Homo sapiens: one gene and its partner. The protein of the gene in region 1 purifies or fractionates together with the protein of each later gene. This does not show direct contact. Each region holds a gene or a part of one and is shown on either strand. Other genes may lie near its edges.

Region 1 (4,202 bases):
CTTCAGGTAGGCAGCAAATGTGTGAAGGCTGGCTGTTACTTAATGGACCAGTGGTGGTGGTGGGATTCAAATTCTTATTAAAAAACAAAAGCAAACAAACAAAGAAAAGCTATGCGATGCCCAAATAAAACCATCTGTGGGCTAGCTGCTGCTGTTGTCCAAAGTTTGTGGCCCCTGGGTTAGACAAAACCTCTGAGCTGTCCTGACAGGTCTGGGAAAACCAAACAAGTCCTTGTCTCCTAAACTACCTGGGACTCAAGAGCTCTGTAGGAAAAAATTTGTACCCTGCACCCAGCTGGGGTTGACATTTACAGACGCCTGTTTTATGAACTGGGGAGATATTCAGTTGAAGCCAGATTGCTGAAAGTGCTGCTGAGAGAAAATCATCAGAAGGGAGGGCCTCTTCCCCACGCCACCCTGGTGGTAGTTCCTCTATGCCTCCGGATTCTGCTAAGCAGTAAAAGCTAAAGGGCAGTGTCATTAAGCTCCTAGGGGATGGGATGCAGTGGCTCACACCTGTAATTCCAGCACTTTGGGAGGCCGAGGCGGGAGGATCGTCTGAGTCCAGGAGTTCAAGCCCAGCCTGGGCAACACAGCAAGACCCCATCTTTGCAAAATAGATAGATAGATAGAGATGTATGAAAGTTACTAGGTCCCATGCTGGCAGGGGAGAGAGTGAGCACCCTGGCCTCCCACAAGCTGCCTCCCACTTCCCTCCGACTCCATCACCGATTTCCCATCAGAGCAGGCTGCTCAGAGTGGCTAAGTAGCTACCAGTTCATTTTCCACACCCTTCCCATTCTCCACGAGCCAGAGCTCCACCTCCCCCCAGAAGCTGTCTTCAACCACCCGGCCTGGGGAGCTCCCCTCAGCACTGGCTCCCCGCCCCGCCTCGCAGCACCTGTTCGGGCCTCGGTCGCGCCGCCGGGTCTTGCAGACGCGAATGTAAACAGAAACACAGTGAAAGGCGTTCGGAGAGCCTCGTGACTGCGGCACGGCGGCGAGCCGGGAACATCAGTGCGTCCAGAGCAAAATGAACGAATGTACGCATGACTCCTGGAGCGACCTTCACGAGGGAAAGCGCGCCCCCCGGCACCCACCCCTAAGCGCCCCAAAATGACCAGCCTTTACACAACCCAGCTCGCAGGCGAAGCTGAGGTCGGAGCTCCAAAAGCGAGGGAGGACAGCCGCTGAAGAAGTCCCGGCTTCCCATAGGCCAGGACGAAGTAGGGGGCGGGCTCATCTTGCAGGAGCGTCCACGTATTGGTGGAGCCGCGGACTTAGAGCTGCGATTCGCTGCGCGAAATTGCCGAAAGCCCTCCCGCGGAGGGAGAAGGGGCGGGAAGAAGGGCGTGGTCAGCGCGGCCGAAGGGCGTGGTTGGCGCTCGGTCCTGCCCTGCGCGTTTTGGGCTGCGGTTGGAGGGCCGCAGTTGCAGTCAGGGTCCGCCAGCTCGGGGCCAGCGCATGGGGCTGCTGAGACCGCTCCGGACGTGCGAAGCGTTCGCGGTGCGGTAGGTAGGCAGTGTCCCGCGTGCGGGTGCTGGTGTCGGGGGTGCCGCGGCGCTGGGGGCGGTGGCCCGGGCTAGATCCGCGCGCGCGCCCGGCCCCCTCCCCCGCGTCTCTTCGGTGCCTGCGGGGCCCTTGCGGTGCGGGCCGTCTGGCCTCGCGTCCCCGCCGGCAAGGGCACAAAGGCTCCCTGGGGGGCGGGGGCGCCTCGTGCCTTCGCCTCCATCTTGCGAGCGGAACGGCGTGTGCTGTGGCGGCCGAGGGGTCGGGGCCGAGGCGGGCGGCTGGGCTTGGGAATGCCCGGGCGCGGCGAGGGAGTGCGCGAGTCCGCGCATCTGGCGGCCGAGCAGCTGCGCCGCTGGTCGGCCTGGGCCCCGGGGGAGGTCACTTTCCCTCAGGCCTCTCCCGGGCGTGGGCTGTTTACCCAGCTCCCCAGTCGGGGCTAATGCAGCTCGGGCCTTTCCCCCTGGAAAGATGGAGACCAGTGATGTCTTCTTATCGCCGCGCCCAGATGCGGAGAGAAAAAATCAAGATGTCTCATTTTTTTTGCCTCGGAGGGCTACCCTTTCTAACTGTCATCACTAGAACAGTTCTCAGCAGCCTGGGGACGAATGTCCAAAACCTGTTCCAGGCCCTTGATGATTAGTAGGTTGGGTTTAGTGTATTGTTTGTAACAAAAATGAGCGGAAGCCTGCCAGGGCAGATTGGACCTCACTGGGAATTCATCAGGACCACGAAGGGAGGTAGCGTTTGTAAATAATCTAACAGTTCTCAGATCTAGGGTATGAAGAGTGTTGTGTTAAAGTGTGTAACAAAGGTTGTTGGGTCAGTTTGCCTTGGGTTTAGTTGAAAGATCTAGAAGTCACCACTTTTTACTTTGTTCCCTCCATTCCCCTTTCCCACCCTCTGTTGAGTCAATTCTGGCCCACTTAGAAAACAACAACAACAAAAAACCCAAGGAATTCAGTTTAACCTCTTTTGCGCAAAGCTTTTTAAAGCACTTCCCCACCCTGCGACTGATAACTCCTCCCTTTTTTGGGCTACCTTCTGCAGCCTCTGTTTTTACTCATCACACTGTATTGTGGTTTCCCCAGCCCCTAGCACAATGCTTGGAACATAAAAGGCACTCAATGATGGAAGGAAGCCAAAAGGAAACAAAATCAGCGTGGTAGTCTAAAGGTGACACAACAGAAACATTTATTTAACTTCTTGAGCGAGTTATTCTTACAGGTTAGGAAGGCAGCTAAGCTCAGGCTCTCTAAGTCAAACAGGCTTTAGCTCTGCCATGTTACTAACTCTGATTAATTTTTTTTTTAATGGTGATGGGGGTCTTGCCATGTTGTCCAGGCTGGTCTTGAACTCCTGGGCTCAAGCAATCCTCCTGCCTCTGCCTCCCAGAGTGCTGGGATTACAGGCGTGTCATTAAGTTATTTAACTTCTCCGTGCCTTGGTTTCCTCATCCTTAAAAATGGGAATAATAGTAGTACCTGTGTGGTGAGTTATTAGGATTAAATAAGATATTGATGTATAGTGCCTAATATAGTTCCTGGCACAAAGAAAATGATCAGTAGCTGTTAGCTGTTAGCAGTCGTTAGGAGAAAAATAAATGGATACTTGAATACACTCACCAATATGAAATATCTGTATAGTACTTGACCCTTCAGGATCTCTCTGTTTTTTGGTCCTTATCCGATCCCTTTTTTTGAGACAGGGTCTCACTCCATCACCCAGGCTGGAGTACAGTGGCATGATCTCAACTCACTGTGGCCTCAACCTCCTGGGGTCGAGTCCCTCTCACCTCAGCCTCCCAAGTAGCTGGGATCACAGGTGCACATCACCAGGCCCAGCTAATTTTCTATTTTGTTGTAGAGATGACGTCTCTCTATATTGCCCAGGCTTGTCTTGAACTCCTGGGCTCAAGCGATTACTGGCATGAGCCACGGTGCCTGACACCTTATCCGATGGCTGATTTTTTTCCTTTTTTTTTTTTTTTTTTTTTTTTTTGAGAGGGAGTTTCACTCTTCTTGGCCAGGCTGGAGTGCAATGGCACAGTCTCAGCTCACTGCAACCTCTTCCTCCCGGGTTCAAGCAATTCTCCTACCTCAGCCTTCCGAGTAGCTAGGATTACAGGCACCCACCACCGTGTTCCGCTAATTTTTGTATTTTTGGTAGAGACAGGGTTTCGCCATGTTGTCCAGCCTGGTCTTGAACTCCTGACCTCAGGTGATCCACCCACTTCAGCCTCCCAAAGTGCTGGGATTACAGGCGTGAGCCACCATGCCCAGCCTGATGTCTGATTTTTAAACATCCCTTTAGCCTTTCCTGATTCTCTTTCCACAGTGAAAGTATTCCGTAGAAGATTATCTGTTTATGTGTCTGGAGTCTCACCACCAACTAAAGATTGATTTGGTGCCAAATAGCAATTTGGCCAAGAGTTACAGTAGTACTTGATACATTCTTAACGGGGTCTGTTATCTGAAATGGTCATGTAAAATCAGAGGAGCTAAATAGATGGGGGCCTCATGTGGCTGACAAAAAATCTTTACCTGGTTGATCCATCCAGAAAGAAGCAGAGCTTATGGAGGTGGACTCTCCTTATAACTTAAATCTGTTCTCATGAAGAAACTGTCTCCTATCTTTAATGTTGTTCACCAACATCATGAAAAGCCCAAGAAATGTTCCTGTTGGCTTTAGAC
Region 2 (3,500 bases), on another chromosome or scaffold:
TAGCTTAGAATGTATGCCCTTTTCCTCTCTGGAAATTATTTAAAGAGCAGTTATAAATATCTCTTGGTAAATGTGCCCAATTTACAAAATCTCTTTCTAATGTGACTATTTTTAGAAATTTATTTCAGTTATTCAGTTCTTTTATAAGAGAGAATATTATCTTAGGATTTTAAAGCCTTCTGAATTTTTTTTTAAGAACAAGAGTAATAATATCACTGAAGAAGTACATCAACATATAACATTAATAACATTAGTTATATATAATGTTATTAATATGTTATATGTATAACATTAATTATATATATTTACTTATATATATAACATTTTATGTATGACATATGTTATATATGTTATTAATAGTTATATGTATAACATGTTATTAATAGGTATATATAACATATATAATATATAGTTATATATATAACTATAACATATTAATAGTTACATATATAACTATTATTTGCTTTTATAGGTTTGTTTAATCCAGAAAATCATTGGACAGTCGTTGAGGAACTTCTATATCCAAGATAGTAGTAGGGACCAGAAAGATATTTAAATATCTAAATATTCTGGCCCCTGCCCTCAAATCTAGTGAATAAAGACATGGTGTATATAGGAGAACTTTCAAATGTATAATTGTTTTACCTGAATTGAATGTCAGTAGCTAATTTGCATATACATAAACTTTTTATTGGTGATTACCATATACACATAATGAAGACTTCCTTCTTCTTTTGTTCCCTTTCATTAGTTGATATCTAGTATATTCATGTGAGAAAGTTTTACCATCTTTTTAAAGATAATAATGAGGTTAACTGAATGAATATAGTAGTGATCCATACCTATCCTCTCTAGCATTTTTTGATATATGAGAAAATCACTTTACCAATTGCTGTTATTTTAATATCACAATAATTGGGTTAATTGCTGTTTACAGGTGATTTCTAGCTTGTCTCATGCCATAGGCAAGCAAAAGGAAAAGATAGAGTTGATGAGAACATTCTTCCACTGGCGAATCGGCCATGTCAGAGCCAGACAGGATGTAAGTGTCAAAGCAGAAGACAGCTGATGGATGTTAGACTTCTGAATTCAGAAGTGCTCAGGATCACTTATTATAGTTGTTTTCTAATAAGTCAAAATGAATTTGTGATTTAATGTTCCTCTTATTTCAAAGGAATTTGATTTTGATGTAGTTTGGAAAAAATACAGTTTAGATCTTATTGACATATAATATATATATATTACAATAGATACATCATTTCCTGCTTCATAGTAGGTTAATAAGGATTGTTCCTAAATTGTAAAGGCCCTGGTAATAGAACCCCCTCAGATGTGGTTATTGGAGAAAGAAGTTATGTTTAACATATCAAATGCTTCCTATATTGTTTCTACTTTTAAAATGCCTGAATACAACTTATTCATAAAGAGGCTTTACTATATTTATACATTAAATCACAGTATAAATGTTTGTTATGTAGACTTGCCTTAGAGTGAGAGTCAGAGAAAGCCATACCTGTACAGCTTTTTAAAAGTTATCCTTAGCTTGTAGTATATCATTTAAACTTGAACATCTTTTATTTTAAGTAAGAGCTGAGTTGGTATATCAGTAAATAGTGAACTGAAAGAGAATACTAAATTGTTGTATCAAAAGTGGAAAAGTATGAGTATATCCCACAACAAGACATAGTTTAGAGACACATGAATATAGGAGATGAATATATATATATATGCTTTCCATGTATATTCATGTGAGCTATGGAATAATCTCTGTGTATTTAGTTTCCAAGAGATTAGTATTTAAGGAAAAAGCTAGTACAGGTTGAGTATCCCTTATCCAAAATGTTTGGCACCAGGAGAATTTTGGATTTTAGATTATGTTTCATATCACACCTTATGCACAAAATTCATTTATGTTTCATATTTCACCTTATACATATAGCCTAAGGTAATTGTATACAATATTTTTAATAATTTTATGCATGAAACAAAGTTTGTGTTAAGTACTTCTGTGTGGAATTTTTCACTTGTGGTGTCATGCTGACACTCAAAAAGTTTCAGATTTTTGGATTAGAGATGCTCAACCTACTTTATCCTGGAATAAGATTTCTCCTTTAAGAATACTTTCTGGATTTTTCATTTTTTTAATTAATCCCAGTAGATTAAATCCACATTAAGTAAGCTGGTTAAAATGAATATTTATACTCTACTTTGAAACTTGTCAAGTGAAATAATGAGAATACATATTTATTTTTAAATGTTAGCCAGAATAGTTGAGGCTACTGTCACTTTTGGATAGTTTTTCAAACTGAAGAAATTGAGAATTGGAACTACTTCTTCAAAAGAATTTAAATTCATTGATAAAAGAAAAATAGCATAAGTTTTTATTTGGATTGGCACCATATATGATGGCAGGGTTTATAAATTAAATCTTGCTTGTGGTGGCCATCAAACTGAAGAGAAAGCAGTGTCATCTGAAGCCACAGCCACCACCATTTCCTGCCTTCTAGCCACTCTGTTATTCTCCTGGTCCTGCTAAATTCATAACTAAGATGGCAAGTGGTGATTTGCTCATTTTCTTTCATTTGGTTGTATTCTTTTTCTCTAACTTGATTAGTTGCATAAAGCAATGATGTAATGGATAAGAGCTCAGTCTCTGGAGTCAGGCAAGTCTGGCTTTACTCATCTACTTATGTGAACTACGTAGCTTGCTTAACCTCTCTAAGCCTGTTCTCCTATATGCAAGATGAGAATAATATGATTACATAGAATTAAATAATGTGTATATGTACACTTACCACCATGTTATGTTTATTATTACTACCAATATATTTATCAATCAACTGTGTTTTTGAAGTTATATTTTACTTTTATTTAGGTTTATGAAGGTAAACTAGCTGACCAGTACTACCAGAGAACTTTACTGAAGAAAGTCTGGAAAGTCTGGCGTTCCGTAGTGCAAAAGCAGTGGAAAGATGTGGTAGAAAGAGCTTGTCAAGCAAGAGCTGAAGAAGTTTGTATCCAGATTTCCAATGATTATGAAGCCAAAGTTGCTATGGTAAGCATCTTTTTCTGGTTTTCACTTTCTTCTAATACAATAAAAAGATAGATAGACTCACTATTAATTAATAGACTTCTTCTTTTGGTCTTTAATCAAGAATGCAGACAAAAAAATGAAAACGTTTATTCTTGTGTTAATTTAATGTTTATTGTATATTCTTACATGGTTGATATAAGGAGTTGTATAGAAATTGAAATTATTAGTTGGGCGCGGTGCCTCACTCCTGTAGACCCAGCACTTTGGGAGGCCGAGGCGGGCAGATCACCTGAGTCAGGAGTTTGAGACCAGCCTGGTCAACATGGTGAAACCCCGTCTCTACTAAAAAAATTAGCTGGGTATGGTGGCACATGCCTATAATACCCGCTACTCGGGAGGCTGAGGCAGGATAATCTTTTGAACCTGGGAGGCAGAAGTTGCAGTGAGCTATATCACACTGTTGCAC

The links. The genes of interacting proteins can lie anywhere in the genome.
Region 2: the proteins of CEP68 (region 1) and POC5 purify together in Homo sapiens (co-immunoprecipitation; one large-scale study listed by IntAct). This does not show direct contact.

Annotation. Positions count from the first base shown.
Region 1 is NC_000002.12:65,055,014-65,059,215, forward strand, and holds the start of CEP68 (centrosomal protein of 68 kDa), read left to right. Parts: upstream 1-1,402; 5' UTR 1,403-1,515; intron 1,516-4,202. UniProt on the Homo sapiens protein: Involved in maintenance of centrosome cohesion, probably as part of a linker structure which prevents centrosome splitting. Required for localization of CDK5RAP2 to the centrosome during interphase. Contributes to CROCC/rootletin filament formation.
Region 2 is NC_000005.10:75,689,938-75,693,437, reverse strand, and holds part of POC5 (centrosomal protein POC5), read left to right. Parts: intron 1-937; coding exon 938-1,042; intron 1,043-2,875; coding exon 2,876-3,055; intron 3,056-3,500. UniProt on the Homo sapiens protein: Essential for the assembly of the distal half of centrioles, required for centriole elongation. Acts as a negative regulator of centriole elongation.